Linked DNA regions of Homo sapiens: region 2 is linked to region 1. A link means that fine-mapping ties the variant in region 1 to the expression of a gene that starts in the linked region. Tissue or cell type: whole blood. Region 1 holds a variant in brackets; the other region holds the start of a gene. All regions are shown on one strand. Distances are from middle to middle.

Region 1 (2,760 bases):
CCCAGAACCTGCATCTCTCAAACGGAGAAAGCCAACATTCCCATCTTAGAAACTAATGAATTTCTATAAAAGTTATGCACTGGTCGCAATGGGAGTACAGAGCTGGGACATCTAGCTCAGCTCTGGGGCCTTTGTGGCAGGTGAAGGAGGATTGAAGGATGCCTTGCCTTTAGGGTGGGGCCTCAAAATTAAAACTGGAAAAATTGGAAGAGGCTAGGTTTCGAAGGACCTTAAATAGGTGGCCTTTTAATCCTGGGTGCATTAATGGGGGACCCACTGAAGAGTTTTCAGCAGGCGACTGATAAAGCATGGTCAGACTCATGTTATAAAATGCGGTATCAAAACCATTAGCAGGAGATTTAGGAAACTATTAAAATGGCTCAATCAGAAGATGCTGGGGGCCTGACATAGGTAAGTAGTAAGTTAGGATAGAGAGGAAGGAATGAATAGAAGGAATACTTATATAAGTGGATTCACAGATTGAGAGGAGACGAAGGTGGCCCAGGCTTTCGGCTTCAGTGGCTGGCTAGTCATTAACCAGAGGTAGTAGTCTATATGAAGAGGACAGTATGTTAGGCTGTACTTGCATTGCTATAAATACCTGAGACTGGGAAGAAAAGGGGTTTAATTGGTTTACAGTTACGCAGGCTGTACAGGAAGCATAGCTCCAGTATGCTTCCAGGTAGGCCTCAGGAAGCTTACAATCATGGCAGAAGGTGAAGAAGGGGCAGGCCTCTACATGGCCCGAGCAAGAGCAAGAGATTGCGGGGCCGGTGCCACACACTTAAACAATCAGATCCCACAAGACACTGTGGCGAGGACAGCACCAGGCCATGAGGGCTCTGCCCCCGTGACCCAAACACCTCCCACCAGGCCCTACCTCCAACACTGGAGATTATAATTCAACATGAGATTTGGTAGGGACATATATTCAAACTAAATCAGACAGATTTAAGGGGAAGATGCTAAATTCAATTTTGGACATATGAAATTTGAGAACCTATGGGAGTGGAAGTGGAGATGTCCATGAGTCACTTGGATATTTAAGTCCACAGCTCTGGGGAAGTGCCAGGTAGACATGACCACGTCACATAACGTGGTGGATGAAATTATGACAGTGGGTAAGCTCAACCCAAGAAGAGTGTGTAAAGAGAAGGGTAATGAAAACAGGTTGGAAGCTGAGAGAACACCAGAATTTATTGTTTTAAAAAGGGCTAGAGGAAGAGAAACCCATGAAATAAACCAGAAAGAGCCAACCAACAATGCCAGATGCAGTCCCGAGGACCACCGAAGTAAGAAGTGAAAATTCTCTAGATTTGGCAGTGGGGTGAGAATGGGGAAGGTGGTGATTTTGTTGACTGT[C/G]GTGATTTGGTTGAAGATGGAAGCCAGAGAGTAGTGGATTGAGCAATGAAGAGAAGAGGGAGGTGAAGCATAAACCACTGTCAAGTTGCTTGGCCAATGTGAGAAGGGAAGATAAAGGGGAAGCTAGAGAGGAATGCAGCATTGAGAAAGCTTTTTTTTTTTTTTTTTTTGAGACGGAGTCTCGCTCTGTCGCCTAGGCTGGAGTGCAGTGGCGCAATCTCGGCTCACACAAGCTCCGCCTCCCGGGTTCACACCGTTCTCCTGCCTGAGCCTCCAAGGACTACAGGCGCCCGTCACCAAGACCGACTAATTTTTTGTGTGTGTATTTTTAGCAGAGACGGGGTTTCACCGTGTTAGCCAGGATGGTCTGCATCTCCTGACCTCGTGATCCACCCACCTCGGCCTCCCAAAGTGCTGGGATTACAGGCGTGAGCCACCGCGCCCGGCCGAGAAAGAATTTTTTTAATGTTTGCTTTTTAAGGCAAGAGAAAACTTTAACATGTTTAGATATACAGGTGAAAGGGCTTCTGGAGAAGAGGAAAGTTTCTGCAGAAGGATCGACTCAGAGGCAAAAAGGTAGAGAAGAAGAAAGTAAAGATTTCAGAGGTGTGAGGGATAGTTGATGGGTTTAGCATGCTGGTATGGTTCAATTCTCTATCAAAAGTGACGAAATTTAGCTCCAGCAACAACAACAAAAAACTGCTATATTTCTGGATATCCTTGTGTTGGCCCCTGCAAGCCAAAGGAAAACAAAATAAAACCAAAAAATCCCAAACTATGAAATCTAATACCTTACACATGCATAGGTCCTAATTCATAGGGTGTAAGAATTTGTCATCAACATTTGCATTTTCGGATTTTTTTGGCAAATGTCCTGTTGCCCAGGCTGGATACAGTGGCATGATCATGGGTAACTGCACATTCAACCTCCTGGACTCAAGCGATTCTCGTGCCTCAGCCTCCAAGTAGCTGGGACTACAGGCGCCCGCCACCACGCCTGGCTAATTTTTATATTTTTTTAGAGATGGGGTTTTGTCATGTTGCCCAAGCTGGTCTCAAACTTCTGAGCTCAAGGGATCCACCTGCCTTGGCCTTCCAAAGTGCTGGGATTACAGGTACGAGCCACCACACAGAGCCGCAAACATTTTTTGAGGTCACCAAATCTAGGGTGACAAATACAATAGATAACATAGAATTCATTTAGTCAAATAATACACAGTCAAATCATCTTATTTATCTAGTATGGAGAAAGGATAGTTTGTTTTAATAAGAACGTCATTATCATCATCTTCTATTATTGATTACCAGGAACCCACAGAGTTTATGCCACTTGTGTTTAAATAAAAATATCCACACACAACCACAAATAAATTCCTCCATTAATATATTCATCAAAAA
Region 2 (2,500 bases), 41 kb before region 1:
TGGCATCACCCTCTATAACTAAAACAATGCACGGGAGACTCGTTACAGATCACATTGTACAGCCATGTTCCCCCTGTTAAACCAAGGAACGGCCCATCATTGGCCCATGAATTCTATAGAAATGGCTGCTTTAAAACTGCTTCAGATGGTTTCATGTGGTCTTAGCATCTTTATGTAGGAGGAGAGCAAAAAGCAGAAAGGTAGGTGTCAGGGCAGAGACCAGGGGTTTAGATGAAAGTTCAAGACAGAATTCCACTTCCATCCCCATTCCCAGCTTTATTTTCTTCAAAATCTGAACTGATGCTATGCTGCCGGCCTCCAGTCTGGGGGTGGGGGTGGATTCTTTCGAAAGGCAAAATAACCTCAAAATGATTCAGTCACTGCAAAGGGATTCAGACCTGCAGCCTTGAGTACCAGTCTAGTCTTTGTTACTTACTAGCTGCTGGAGTCTGGGTAAGTTACCTCCTCTCTGATTTCTCCTCCATCAGAGGTGGAGGAGAATCCTACCCATCTCACAGGGTTGTGTGAGGACTTAAGATCCCCAGAGGCGTGGCATGTGCCTGCACAGGGCCAGCCTCGGCAAGCCTGACCTCTGCTCATCATTTTCCCTGAGGTGGGGGTTCAATGCTGCAAAGACTAAGCCAGGCCAAACCGCACCCGTTCGCGGCCCTCTCCTGCAGCCACTCACCCACTTCCACGAACTCGTTGTTCTCTAGGGCCACCTCGAGCCGGTCCTCGTTGTCCAGCAGGCCCAGGCCCTTGCACCGGCGCACAAGGAAGTGCGCGTCATCCACGGAGGTGAAGCCACCATTGTCGGGCTTATTCTTGATATAGCGCCTCACGGCCTCCCGGCCCAGCCAGCCCACAGTGAGCTGCGCGTCCTGGCAGGGCACTGCCAGCCATTCCCCACGTACGTGCACCGTGTATCTGGGCATGGCTCCGCTGCAGCCTGAGGTCCTCAGCTGGTCACAGGAGGGGAGAGCTTTATGCAGGAGTGGCTACCGGGGTGTGGTCAGCTGGAAGGATGAGAATAGACTTTCAAACCACTCCCCCTCCTTCACCTTTACTCATTCATGCATTGGACAAATATTTATTGAGGTACCTGCTGTCCCTTTGGTTTTTGTAGCCGAGCAGGGGCAGGAGCAGGGGATGCAGACGGGTGAGCCTCCTGTCCACTTTCCATCCAGACCTGCTGCCAGAAAGGCCTGGGGTCTCCCACCCTGGGAGGTGCTGTTCTTGTCCCTGATGGCACCTACCTGCTGCTGGCCCCCTTTCTTCAGGGTCCCCAATTTCTCTCTCTTCCCTCGTTTCTGTCTGTGTTCTCTGCCATTAAGGGCAGCTTATAAACACCATGTTCCTGTCTTTATCTGAGATTACTCAACTGTAAAACGTGTTCTGTGGGCCAACTGTGACACTGGGAGTGTGGCAATCGTCACTCATTTGTTTATTCCACAAACATGTATTGAGCAACTACTTCCTGTCACCAGTAAGGTTTTCTGAAGCTTTCTTTCCACCAGGGAAGACTGCAAAGGCCAGAGATCATTTTCACAACTAAAGGTCGTCATCTGGGCAAATGAACCACTCTGACTTGGAGATTAGGGGCTCAGACAGCCGTGGATGAGAGTCCAGCTCTACTACTTATTAGCCTTGATTAGGTGAGTATTACCCTGTATTTCCTTATCAGAAGGCCTAGGGGCTAACTGCCTCCTTCCAGTATGTGCAGGATTTACCTGTGATCAAATCCTGGCTCTGCCATTTGCTAAGTGTATGACTTGTGGGCAAGTGATTTGACTTCTCTGGGCCTCAGTTGCCTCATCTGTAAAATGAAGATAATGGTAATGATGATAGTATATATGTCAAAGGGCTATTGGGAGGATGAAGTCAGTTCATATATGTAAAGCCCTCAACACAACACCTGGCATAGTGGAAATATTATAGAAGTGTCTGTGATTACTAGTATCTGGACACCAATACTCCATGTAACTATAATGCTTTATAAATGTTCTGTATGAATCATAAAGCTATAAAGTTCCATAAATGCTCTTTCATCTTGGCACATGGATATCCCTCACCCAATTAAGCTTCTTCACCACAGATAACTGCTCCCTGCACCCGCCTTATTACCATTGGTATTAAGGAACTCTGGATAGCATGATTACGGCATCAAAGATATGCAGATGCTATTTTGACTAAGCAGCACTTTCATCGTAAGCCAATTTTTAGAGATTTGATTATTGCACTAGAAAAATCCTGAAAAGTCTGTTTCCACTAAATCAGACTTCTGTTGGGAAGAGAGACATGGTTGCTCAAGAAAAACACCTATACTCATACCCAGAGTCCCTCTCATCTGCTGACAGCTTCCCAGGAAGCGTACAAATAGCTACCCTTCCTTGAGCCTTATTGAAACTTGCTCTTCAGATACCCACACCATGACTGCACCCTGGAATTTGTCATGACCTGAATTTGACACACTTAAGAAATCACCCTGGAATCTGTCACG

Evidence for each region. PIP is the estimated chance that this variant, and not a neighbour inherited with it, causes the effect.
Region 2: it holds the start of HAL, and the variant in region 1 is fine-mapped to the expression of HAL in whole blood (TOPMed, PIP above 0.99).

Annotation. Positions count from the first base shown.
Region 1 is chr12:96,036,180-96,038,939 of GRCh38, forward strand. It overlaps a transcript of LTA4H not described here. Among named protein-coding and RNA genes, the nearest start is that of TRD-GTC2-8, 1.5 kb to the left of the region's middle. RefSeq lists enhancers at 47-96, 117-166. The variant C/G (reference allele first, on the strand shown) is at 1,363.
Region 2 is chr12:95,994,976-95,997,475 of GRCh38, forward strand. HAL (histidine ammonia-lyase) reads right to left here and starts at 1,369. Exons shown (of 21, transcript NM_002108.4): 1 at 1,103-1,369; 2 at 689-1,016; 3 at 1-18. The coding sequence starts at 935. It overlaps LOC102723340 (a long non-coding RNA gene), which reads left to right and starts at 1,507. Exons shown (of 4, transcript XR_945237.4): 1 at 1,507-1,655. RefSeq lists an enhancer at 1,582-1,751.